Linked DNA regions of Homo sapiens. The protein of the gene in region 1 purifies or fractionates together with the protein of each later gene. This does not show direct contact. Each region holds a gene or a part of one and is shown in the gene's direction. Other genes may lie near its edges. The genes, in order: ACOT7, PNMA8A and GOT2.

Evidence for each region.
Region 2: the proteins of ACOT7 (region 1) and PNMA8A purify together in Homo sapiens (affinity purification with mass spectrometry, with the first as the bait; one study listed by BioGRID). This does not show direct contact.
Region 3: the proteins of ACOT7 (region 1) and GOT2 purify together in Homo sapiens (affinity purification with mass spectrometry, with the first as the bait; one study listed by BioGRID). This does not show direct contact.

What each region holds. Positions count from the first base shown.
Region 1 is NC_000001.11:6,338,197-6,341,843, reverse strand, and holds part of ACOT7 (cytosolic acyl coenzyme A thioester hydrolase), read left to right. Parts: intron 1-2,254; coding exon 2,255-2,411; intron 2,412-3,647. UniProt on the Homo sapiens protein: Catalyzes the hydrolysis of acyl-CoAs into free fatty acids and coenzyme A (CoASH), regulating their respective intracellular levels.
Region 2 is NC_000019.10:46,469,409-46,473,155, reverse strand, and holds the start of PNMA8A (paraneoplastic antigen-like protein 8A), read left to right. Parts: upstream 1-1,592; 5' UTR 1,593-1,819; intron 1,820-2,041; 5' UTR 2,042-2,120; coding exon 2,121-3,423; coding exon of another isoform or gene 3,424-3,494; intron 3,495-3,747.
Region 3 is NC_000016.10:58,706,699-58,710,445, reverse strand, and holds the end of GOT2 (aspartate aminotransferase, mitochondrial isoform 1 precursor), read left to right. Parts: intron 1-878; coding exon 879-1,029; intron 1,030-2,152; coding exon 2,153-2,275; 3' UTR 2,276-3,315; downstream 3,316-3,747. UniProt on the Homo sapiens protein: Catalyzes the irreversible transamination of the L-tryptophan metabolite L-kynurenine to form kynurenic acid (KA). As a member of the malate-aspartate shuttle, it has a key role in the intracellular NAD(H) redox balance.

The sequences.
Region 1 (3,647 bases):
AGACCCAGCACCATAGGCTTTTTTGTTCCTTTTACATTTTGAATCATGAGAATGGGTCGCCTATTTGAAGGATAAATAACATTGAAAAAAATTTTTTTTTTTGAGACGGAGTCTCGCTCTGTCGCCCAGGCTGGAGCGCAGTGGTGCGATCTTGGCTCACTGCAAGCTCCGCCTCCCGGGTTCACGCCATTCTCCTGCCTCAGCCTCCCGAGTAACTGGGACTACAGGCACCCACCACCACACCCGGCTAATTTTTTGTATTTTTAGTAGAGACGGGGTTTCACCATGTTAGCCAGGATGGTCTCGATCTCCTGACCGTGTGATCCACCCGCCTTGGCCTCCCGAAGTGCTGGGATTACAGGCGTGAGCCACCACACCTGGCCACTTTTAAATTTTTAAAAAGAATAGTTGGGCCGGGCACGGTGGCTCACGCCTGTAATCCCAGCACTTTGGGAGGATGAGGCAGGCGGATCATCTGAAGTCAAGAGTTTGAGGCCAACATGGTAAAACCCCGTCTTTACTAAAAATACAGAAATTAGCCAGGCGTGGTGGTGCACATCTGTAATCCCAGCTACTCAGGAGGCTGAGGCAGGAGAATTGCCTGAATCCTGGAGGCGGAGGTTGCAGTGAACCGAGATTGCACCACTGCATTCCAGTCTGGGCAACAGAGTGAGACTCCATCTCAAAAAAAAAAGAATAGTGATTGCAAAGAGCCATGTCACAACACGGGCAGATTATTTTTCCCATACTGAATGAAAAAGAATCAAGGTGAGAGTGTATTTAGTGTTTTGTTGTTGTTGTTGTTTTTGAGATGGAGTCTTGCTCTGTCACCCAGGCTGGAGTGCAGTGGCGCAATCTCAGCTCACTGCAACCTCCCCGTCCCGAGTTCACCTGATTCTCATACCTCAGTCTCCTGAGTAGCTGGGATTACAGATGTGCACCGCCACGCCCGGGTAACTTTTGTATTTTTAGTAGAGATGGAGTTTCACCATGTTGGCCAGGCTGGTCTCGAACTCCTGGCCTCATGTGATCCGCCCACCTCGGCCTCCCAAAGTTCTGGAATTATAGTCATGAGCCACCGCGCCCGGCCTAAAGAAGAATAGTGATTGCAAAGAATGTGTCACAACACAGGCAGATTATTTTTCCTACGTTGAATGAAAAAGAATCAGAAGGTGAGGGTGTATACTTAGTTTTTGCACAGCTATATTAGACTAAAACTGTGAAACGAGCCAGGCAGACGAACAAGTGAGACAACAAAACCCACCCCGATTCTTGGGAAAAAAGCCTGGAAAGACAGATCCCAAAATAGTAACCATGGTTATCTTTGAATGGGAGGAGTGACGTTCCCCTTCTTTCTACTTTTCTGTATTTCCCAAATTTTCCATAATGGGTATGTATGCATTTGTTCACTTTATATTAAGCAAATAATGCATGCCTATTGTGAGAAAATCAGAAGAAAGGAAGAAGCAGCTGGTGATCCCATCACTTGGGGAATCGCCTGCAGCAGTTGCTTTGGGCTGGACTCTGCAGGGCTCCTCTACATCCCTGTGCTTTTGTGTTTAGGAATGCGCGGTGCTAGGCCGGGCGCGGTGGCTCATGCCTGTAATCCCAGCACTTTGGGAGGCCGAGGCGGGCGGATCACGAGGTCAGGAGATTGAGACCATTCTGGCTAACATGGAGAAACCCCGTCTCTACTAAAAATACAAAAAAATTAGCCGGGCATGGTGGCGGGCGCCTGTAGTCCCAGCTACTCGGGAGGCTGAGGCAGGAGAATGGCGTGAATCTGGGAGGCGGCGCTTGCAGTGAGGGGAGATCGCACCACTGCACTCCAGCCTGGGTGACAGAGCGAGACTCCATCTCAAAAACAAAAAACAAAACAAAACAAAAAAACAAAAAATTAGCTGGGCGTGGTGGCTGTAGTCCCAGCTACTCGGAAGGCCCGCTGTAGTCCCAGCGGGCGCCTGTAGTCCTAGCTACTCGGGAGGCTGAGGCAGGAGAATGTCGTGAACCCGGGAGGCTGAGCTTGCAGTGAGCTGAGATCTTGCCACTGCACTCCAGCCTGGGTGACAGAGCGAGACTCCATCTCAAAAAAAAAAAAAAAAAACCGCGGTGCCAATAAATGGTGATACATTGGTTGCTTTCACAGTGGGGAATGAAAGCAAAGGCAAAGACCGTTTCCAGGGGGCATGTCCTGGGTGGGGCTCTCGGGGCTGGGCTGGCTGACCTGGGCTGACAACTGCCTCTGTCTCCACAGGAGCGCTGTGTGGCCGCCCTGGCTCGTGTCGAGCGCACCGACTTCCTGTCTCCCATGTGCATCGGTGAGGTGGCGCATGTCAGCGCGGAGATCACCTACACCTCCAAGCACTCTGTGGAGGTGCAGGTCAACGTGATGTCCGAAAACATCCTCACAGGTACTTCTGGGAGCGACAGTGTTGACTGGAGCAGTAAGGGCCGTGGCTACACAGCTGCTTCCCTCCTGAGGGCAGAGGACGCTCCAGGGCCTGGCCCCTTTTCCACCAATGAGACCTCTCTCACCTCCCACCATGGCCCTGGGAGCAGCTATGTCCATTGCCCTGATTTTGCAGACAGGAAAGGGGCACAGAGGGGTTAGGAAACGAGTTCAGTTACCCAGAGCAGGACTCAACCCTGCTGTCTGGGTCCGGCCTGAGCACATCATGCTGCCTGTCCTGCTGCCCGTGGCCAGCTCATCCATGGCAGGGGCTGGGCGCGGGCTGTGAGGCCGGTACGCACCATCCACCCCTCTGCAGGTCTCCCTGCCCTGCTTGCCCTCCTCAAGCGTAGGGAGGTGTTGGCTCCAGAGAGGACAGTGCTTGCTCCTGGGAGCCCCAGAAACCAGGCTCAGATGGAAGCTCACTGGGTGAACCTTTGCCTCTGCTTTCATCTGAATATTCTCCTCCTTGGCCATGGTAACCATGGAAACCCCCTTCCCCTTCCCACTGGGCGCTGCAGGAGGGGGCGGCTCCAGTGTTCACCAGCTCACGCTTCTTTTTATACCCAGGCTGGGGACGGGAGGTGAGGGGGAAGGCGGGCCTCTTCCCCTGCCCCTGGTCCTCTCCCTGCCACCTCCCAGGTCACCAGTCCTCCCATGCAGAGAGGCTGGGCCGGTTTCCTCCTCTTCCCCATGCCTGTTCCTCAGCAGTGGCTGCCCCGTGGAGTGCCAGCTCACAGCCATTTGAGGGGCTTGAGTCCTCTTCCTCATGACGGGCCGGTAGCAAGCACGATTATGCATCTAGAACATTCTGAGGACCTCAGCAGGGTTGATTAGAATGGCTGTGTCAGCCCAGCTCCGGCAGGTGGGCAGATGGAGCTGAGCAAGGGCCTGGGGTGGAAGGTGGTCTGCGTTCCCATTGCCTGCTGCTCCCTCAGCAGGCACCTCTGACATCAGAGGGACCCTGGATGCTGGTCTCAGGATGTGGCCCAGGAAGGGGTGTATGGGCACCTCCCACAACAGGAGCAGCGCCCACGACTCGGGAGAGGCTCAGGGCTGGGTGGGTTCCCCACTTTAGGGGCCTTGGGGGTTCCCTGCCATCTCCTGTGAGATCGCAGCTCTTCTCCGACTGTGCTGGGGGTGGAGCCTTGGCCCCTTCCTGGAGAGGAGGGATGGCCTGCCGCGCTCTCCTGCTTCC
Region 2 (3,747 bases), on another chromosome or scaffold:
CGAATAGCTGAGACCACAGGTGACCCCTATCACACCTGGCTAATTTTTTGCGTTTTTGGTAGGGACGGGGTTTTGCCATGTTGCCCAGGATGGTCTCGAACTCCCCAGCTCAAGTGATCCGCCCTCCTCAGCCTCCCAAAGTGTTGGGATTACATGCGTGAGCCACAGCACTGGGCATTAATAAACTATTAACAAAGTTCTTGCTCATGGGCAGCAAGGTTGAGGTAGGAGGCCCAGGGGACTCCACTGAGGATCACATTGAAGACTGGCCAAAACCTGGAAAAGGCACCGAAAGCCTCTCTCCATAAGACATGCCTGCCAGCACCATGACAGTTTACCATTGCCATGGCAACACCCATAAGTTACTGCCAATTTGCTAATTCTGAAAACCCACCCCTTAATTAGCACGTCATTAAAAGTGGGTATAAATGTGACTGCAGCCTTGCCCCGAGGTGCTATTCTCAGCACACTGCCTAGAGGGTAGCCCTCCTTGTTAGGTTTTGGAGGGAAGGTGAGGGTTAAAGACACACAGACAGAAGGCGGCTCAACAGCAACTCAGGTATACTGCAGACACCTGTGGAAGTGGGTAACCAGCCTAATGCCAGAGCCCACTGCTGCTTATAGGCTGGGGGTACTTATAGTTATGGGTGGGAGGGGTCTGAGCAGTATGGTTTGCTGCCCAGCAGGATGTTGATAAGATGGTTCCATGATGAGGCGGTTCTGGCCCTTGTTCTGGTGGAATGTGGTGTTCTCTGCACTTTCTCCCAGCAGAATATGATAGGGATGTTTCTTCAGTTGGGCCTTTGCACGATAGGGTATGATAATGTTTCTTTAGCTGGGCCTTTGTCCGCCTTGTGGTCAGGTGATTAGGCAGGATGTTTCTCATTGGCCCGAACCCCCGTGGAATATTTCACTTTGACCAAGATCTGCAAAATAGTCAGGGCTTACAAAATGGTTGCAGTTTGGACTAACACTTCTCTGTAGGGGCAGTCACTGAGCTGTAACATTGTCCCCTGCCTGGAGGATGCCAAGAACCTGCCCTGAATCACGTTGAGGAAACAAGAAAAGGCGAGGCATTATCCTCATGCTAGAAGGGGTCGGGGAGGAGACTAAGAAATTTCTAGAAGTTTCTGGAAATTCCTGGAAGAACCCAGCAGCTTGTAAGAGAGAAGGCTACAAGCCCAACAGGAACTGCACCTGCTGTTGGAGGAACCCAAGAAGATTAAAGCCTCGTTTTCCTCCTTTCTTGATTTCTAGTGTCTCCCAAGAGTTGCGTTGGGTGAATCCAACAGGTGGGGCAGAGGATAATACAGTCAGTGGGTGCAGCCATAGGTGTTGGCGCTTCTCATCGACCTAACCCCCGTTCGCGAGGCCCACTTGGGTTGAAAGAGGGCCTCCGTGGAGGCGCCACCGGAGTGTATCCAGACCCGCTTGCTCTGCGACCTGAACAGGCCACTCTTGCACCCGGCTCCCTAGGTCCAATTGCAGCGCCGGCGCGCCGGCCGGGCTCAGCCCTAGCAACCCACGCCCGGTTGCCATGGAGACGTCGGCACCTGCGCAGCCCAAGACCCCCGAGCGGCGGTGCGGGAGCCAGTGCGCAGGCGCGCGCTGCGACGCCAACCTCGGCTTCTCGCCGCTAACGGCATCGAGTCTGGACGCCCCGTGACCCGCCTGGGCCGGAGCGGGGGCGGACGGCGCCTTCTTGGCCCTTTCTGCCTCTAGCAGCGGCGCCGGGGTAGCCGGAGCCAGCGACTGGGAAACGGCTGCATTCCACTGCGTCTCCTTGGCCTGGCTGGGCGGTCGGAGGCTGATCTGCCAAGTAAGTCCCGGCTGGGCAGGCGGAGCGTCAGGCCCGGGGGAGGGTCCTAGGGCCTTTTGCTGCAGATTCAGGGACACGTGTGAGCACCGGGGCCTGGGTTGGGGAGGAGGGTGTTGGGAAAGCGCCAGGCCTCCTGCAGGCCAGCCGCGGAGGGGGCAGCTAGGATCTGTGAGCTTGGTCATCTTCCTGGGAACGTGACCTCGCTCCCTTGTCACCTTGCAGGATTACTGTTTGGAGACCGCTGCAGCCCACGTCCACCTGATAGACTATTTACTACACATAGTAGGTTCAGAGCCGCTAAATGTCCAAGACCATGGCGATGAACCTTCTGGAGGATTGGTGCAGGGGAATGGAAGTGGACATCCACAGGTCCTTGTTGGTCACAGGCATCCCAGAGGACTGTGGGCAGGCAGAAATTGAGGAGACCTTGAATGGGGTCCTCTCCCCACTGGGCCCGTACCGCGTGCTCAACAAGATTTTTGTGAGGGAAGAGAATGTTAAAGCTGCCCTCATTGAGGTTGGTGAAGGTGTGAATCTGAGCACCATCCCCCGTGAATTCCCAGGAAGGGGTGGTGTCTGGAGAGTGGTCTGTAGAGACCCTACCCAGGATGCCGAGTTTTTAAAAAATCTGAATGAATTCCTGGATGCCGAGGGGCGCACCTGGGAGGATGTGGTCCGCCTGCTCCAGCTCAACCACCCCACCCTGTCCCAGAACCAGCATCAGCCCCCAGAGAACTGGGCAGAAGCTCTGGGGGTGCTTCTGGGAGCAGTGGTGCAGATCATCTTCTGCATGGATGCCGAGATCCGCAGCCGGGAGGAAGCCAGGGCCCAGGAGGCCGCTGAATTCGAGGAGATGGCAGCCTGGGCTTTAGCAGCAGGGAGGAAGGTGAAGAAAGAACCGGGGCTTGCAGCAGAGGTGGGTTCTGCCTTAAAGGCAGAGACCCCCAACAACTGGAATGCCACGGAAGACCAGCATGAGCCTACCAAACCTTTGGTTCGCAGGGCTGGAGCTAAGTCTCGCTCCAGGAGAAAGAAGCAGAAGAAGAACTCCAGGCAGGAAGCAGTGCCCTGGAAAAAACCCAAAGGCATCAATTCCAACAGCACAGCTAACTTGGAGGATCCTGAGGTGGGTGATGCTGAAAGCATGGCGATCTCAGAGCCGATCAAGGGCAGCAGAAAGCCCTGTGTGAATAAGGAGGAGTTGGCTTTGAAGAAGCCCATGGCGAAATGTGCCTGGAAGGGTCCCAGAGAGCCACCTCAGGATGCCCGGGCAGAAGCCGAGAGCCCAGGAGGCGCCTCTGAGTCAGACCAAGATGGTGGCCATGAAAGCCCACCAAAGAAGAAGGCCGTGGCCTGGGTGTCTGCCAAGAACCCCGCTCCCATGAGGAAGAAGAAGAAGGTGAGCTTGGGCCCTGTCTCCTACGTCTTGGTTGACTCAGAAGATGGCAGGAAGAAGCCGGTGATGCCAAAGAAAGGGCCAGGCTCAAGAAGGGAGGCATCAGATCAGAAGGCCCCTCGGGGCCAGCAGCCTGCCGAGGCAACAGCCTCAACCTCTAGGGGTCCGAAGGCCAAGCCAGAAGGCTCTCCTCGGCGTGCCACCAATGGTGAGAATGATAGCAGAAGTGACTGGGCTCGTGCCAGCAAGTGGATGAGGCAGGAGGAGCAGGAGTGGCAGGTGGGGCAGAGGAGCCCGAGGAGGTGGTGGGTCAAGCGGGTGATGAGGAGGACCCTGGTGCATGGCAGGAGGTGGATGACACACCAGTTGAGGAGGGTAAGAGCCCAGACCGCCCTTCCAGGAGCCCCTGAAGGCCGATGCTGGAGACATCTGGTGGGCAGGAGGTGGCAGAGGAAACCCACAATGAGTGTCACTGTGGTCATTTGCCACTCCATCTGACCCATCTTCCTTGATGAGAATTTAATGGTTTGGG
Region 3 (3,747 bases), on another chromosome or scaffold:
AGCCTGGGCAAAATGGGGAGACCCTGTCTCTACAAAAAAAAAAAAAAAAGAAAAGAAAATTAGCAAGGCATGGTGGAATGCACTTGTGGTCCCAGCTACTTGGGAGGCTGAGGCAGGAGGATCACTTGAGCCTGGAAGATTGAGGCTGCAGTGAGCCATGATCATACCATTGTACTATCCAGCCTGGGTGATAGACTGAGACTGGGTGATGGACTGTATCTGAAAAAAAGAAAAAGAAAAAGAAAATGGGCCAGGCGTGGTGGCTCACACCTGTAATCCCGGCACTCTGGGAGGCCTAGGCAGGAGGATTGCTTGAACCTTGGAGTTTGTAACCAAACCGCGCAACATGGCAAAACCCCATCTCTACATTAAAAGAAAATTCATTTAATACACTTAACCTACCAAACATCATAGCTTACCCTAGCATACTTTAAACATGCTCAGAACAGGTATTAAACTACAGTTAAGCAAAATCATCTAACACAAAGCCATTTTATAACAGAGTGCTGAATGTCTCATGTAATTTATTCAATACTGTACTGAAAGAAACAAAATGGCTGTATGGGTACTTAAAGTACGGTTTCTATTGAATGTATATTGCATTTGTGCCATCATGAAGTTGAAAAGTTGTAAGTCAAGGACTGTCTCTACTCAAGTGTGTTAACTGCTTCAGTTGCCTTATGGAAATAGTGTTCCAATATAAAACAGAATGCTATAAAATAGCTTTCTTCCCTGGCCAGTGACAGCGTGTCACTCATTCGTGACCTGAGAATTGAGGCACACTAGGGGACTGCTCAAGGGAGGTAAAAATGCAGTGAACTCCAGCATATCGGTCAGTGCTTAGGCAGAATGAGCTGCATCTCAGGGTTTCTTTACAGGCTGCAAGAAGTGAAAGTCATGGCTGACCGCATCATTGGCATGCGGACTCAACTGGTCTCCAACCTCAAGAAGGAGGGTTCCACCCACAATTGGCAACACATCACCGACCAAATTGGCATGTTCTGTTTCACAGGGCTAAAGCCTGAACAGGTGAGTGATTCTGATTTCTCTGCAGCAGACCAGCTGATCAGTCTTTGCAAACCCGAAGGATTACTTTTTTTTCTTTTTTCTTTTTTATTTAATGTTTTCGGGTTTTTTGTTTTGTTTTGTTTTGTTTTGTTTTGTTTTTGTTTTTGTTTTTGTTTTGAGACAGTCTCGCTCTGAAACCCAGGCTGGAGTGCAGTGGTGCAATCTCAGCTCACTGCAACCTCCACCTCCCAGGGCTTAAGTGATCCTCCTGCCTCAGCCTCCCGAGCAGCTGGGACTAGAAGTGAGTGCCACCACACCTGGCTAATTTTTGTATTTTTTGTGGAGACATAGTTTCGCCATGTTGCCCGGGCTTGTCTTGAACTCCTGGACTCAAGCGATCCGCCTGCCTTGGTCTCCCAAACTACTGGGATTACAGGTGTGAGCCACTGAGCCCAGCCCCAGAAGGATTCTTCATAGATCACCCACCTGTTCAAAATTACCCTAAAAACAGTTAAAACAGTTATTTTGGAGCCCTTTTAGGTAAAAGTATTGTAATACTTTTTAGCATTTATTTTGCTTTTTTTTTTTAGTTGTTTACCTCTCTGTATCCCCCATGAACTCACAAACTTCTAAAGAGCAGAGCTTGTTTTGATCATGTTCATAATCACTGTTGCTTCTCCCAAGAGAGCAACAGGAGAAATAGCTGTTTCATAATTGAATCCTGGCTCTGCTGAATCTAAAGGTGTCTTTTTCCCCATCTGTTTATGCATCAGAATTCATCATCCTACTTTAAAGTAGCTTTTTTTTTTTTCTTTTTTTGAGATGGAGTCTCACTGTGTCGCCCAGGCTGGAGTGCATTGGCGCAATCTCGGCTCACTGCAGCCTCTGCCTCCCAGGTTCCAGGTTCCAGGTTCCAGCTATTCTCCTGCCTTAGCCTCCTGAATAGCTGGGATTACAAGTGTGAGCCACCGCCCCAGCCTTAAAGTAGCTTTTTATTCTTATTTTATTCCAAGCTAACAGCAAATTCTGGGAACAGGTTTTAAGCGAGGAAATAGAGCGTTGGTAAGTTGGCTACTGTGCCATGTCAGGCCGGGGAGAATCCCCTGTACCGGGAAGAGGTACCCAAGTTCTTTCCTCTCTGCAGGTGGAGCGGCTGATCAAGGAGTTCTCCATCTACATGACAAAAGATGGCCGCATCTCTGTGGCAGGGGTCACCTCCAGCAACGTGGGCTACCTTGCCCATGCCATTCACCAGGTCACCAAGTAATGTCCCTGGTGCGAGGAAACAGAGACAACCTTTCTGTCTTCAGCCTCTGCTATTGAGAGCTTCACACAGACAATGAGAGAGGGTGGATGGTGGTGAGTGGATCATTTCTTTCAGCCACAGTGTGTAACACTCAGCATTTGAATGTTTCTCAGAAAAGAACATGTAGTGACACAGGGCAGAGGCATCCATGGCTGGCGTCTGGAATATTAAACCAAACTCTCCCCGGTCCTTTTTTCTCCAACTTTTCTCAAAGAGTTTACATGTGCAAGAAAGTCATCGCACCAAAAAACCTGTCAATTATGCCATTGCAATATTTCAGAAGCTTTAACTGAAGTGTCAGGTTCCTCGTGAGAAACAGCACACGTTAGAGGCTTTGAGAGAAGGCCTAGTTCTGTCATGAGTAGTCGGCCTCGTGTCTGTCCTCCCATCTTGGAACAACCTTATCAACAGGCCGCACTGCAGAAATGATGTTTTATGAAAACCAATGAGGCTGCTGCCACTCCAGCAAGGGAAATAATGCAGTTTCCTGTCTTATTTAAGAAAAAGAGAAGGCTCTCTTTTCTCCCTTGTCATTGCCGTTCTTTTCCTTACACGCAAAGATTTTTTAACTATTGCAGATTTTCATCCCATTCTACTGCTTGATTGACCATCAACTCCATCCTATCGAGATTTATTTAAGAATGAAGAACATAATTTTCTGCTGATGCTGTACCCTCACCCTTTTCAGCAAAGAATAGTGGAGAGTAGGAAACTGTACTTTATCTCGGCATCCTCTTGAATGATAGTGCAAGTTTCTCCAGTTGGGATGTTGTCTCTGCCCGGTTGGACCTCCTCCCTTTGTTGAATGTGGTGTGCAGCCTCTCATCTCACACTGTGAGTCCAGCGGCGCAGGGTGGTACCAGGAAAGAGGATATTCTAGGCTTTGCGTGCTGCTAGCTGGGTTCAGGCTTCACCCACTGGAAAGAACCACCATCTGCTCTAACCATGTAGACTTATTGCGGCCTGGTTTCTCTGTTACAATAAAATTACTGTAGACCCAACTACTGTCTACTAAGTTATCTTTTTTCTTTAATGGGAGGAAGGGGTAGGAGTGGGTAAATAAATAAAGGGGTAGGAGTTTGGAATCGTGTAGCTGATCATAAGCCAGTAGATGTATCCACTATTCCAAATATTGGCTGAAGATTCGTCGTTTTCTTCATGTTGCCATTCAGTTTGTCCAGTCCGAAGATGCTGAGAATGTGGGTGTAATCCCTTGGACCTTGTGGGGAACAAGTGGAGTCCCATGAAGGATCCTGTGGATATAGGCAAAGGGTAGAAGGGGTGGAGGAGAAGTGACAACTTCAGTGGTCTATAGGAGCCAAGAAGGTAACGTAAATAAAAAAGTGTTGTGAACTGGATTTAAGTTGATCAGTGGTGATCAACCCTCATCCTCAGCATTGAGGAGCAGTAGTGAAGTGACAGGAGCTGTGAGG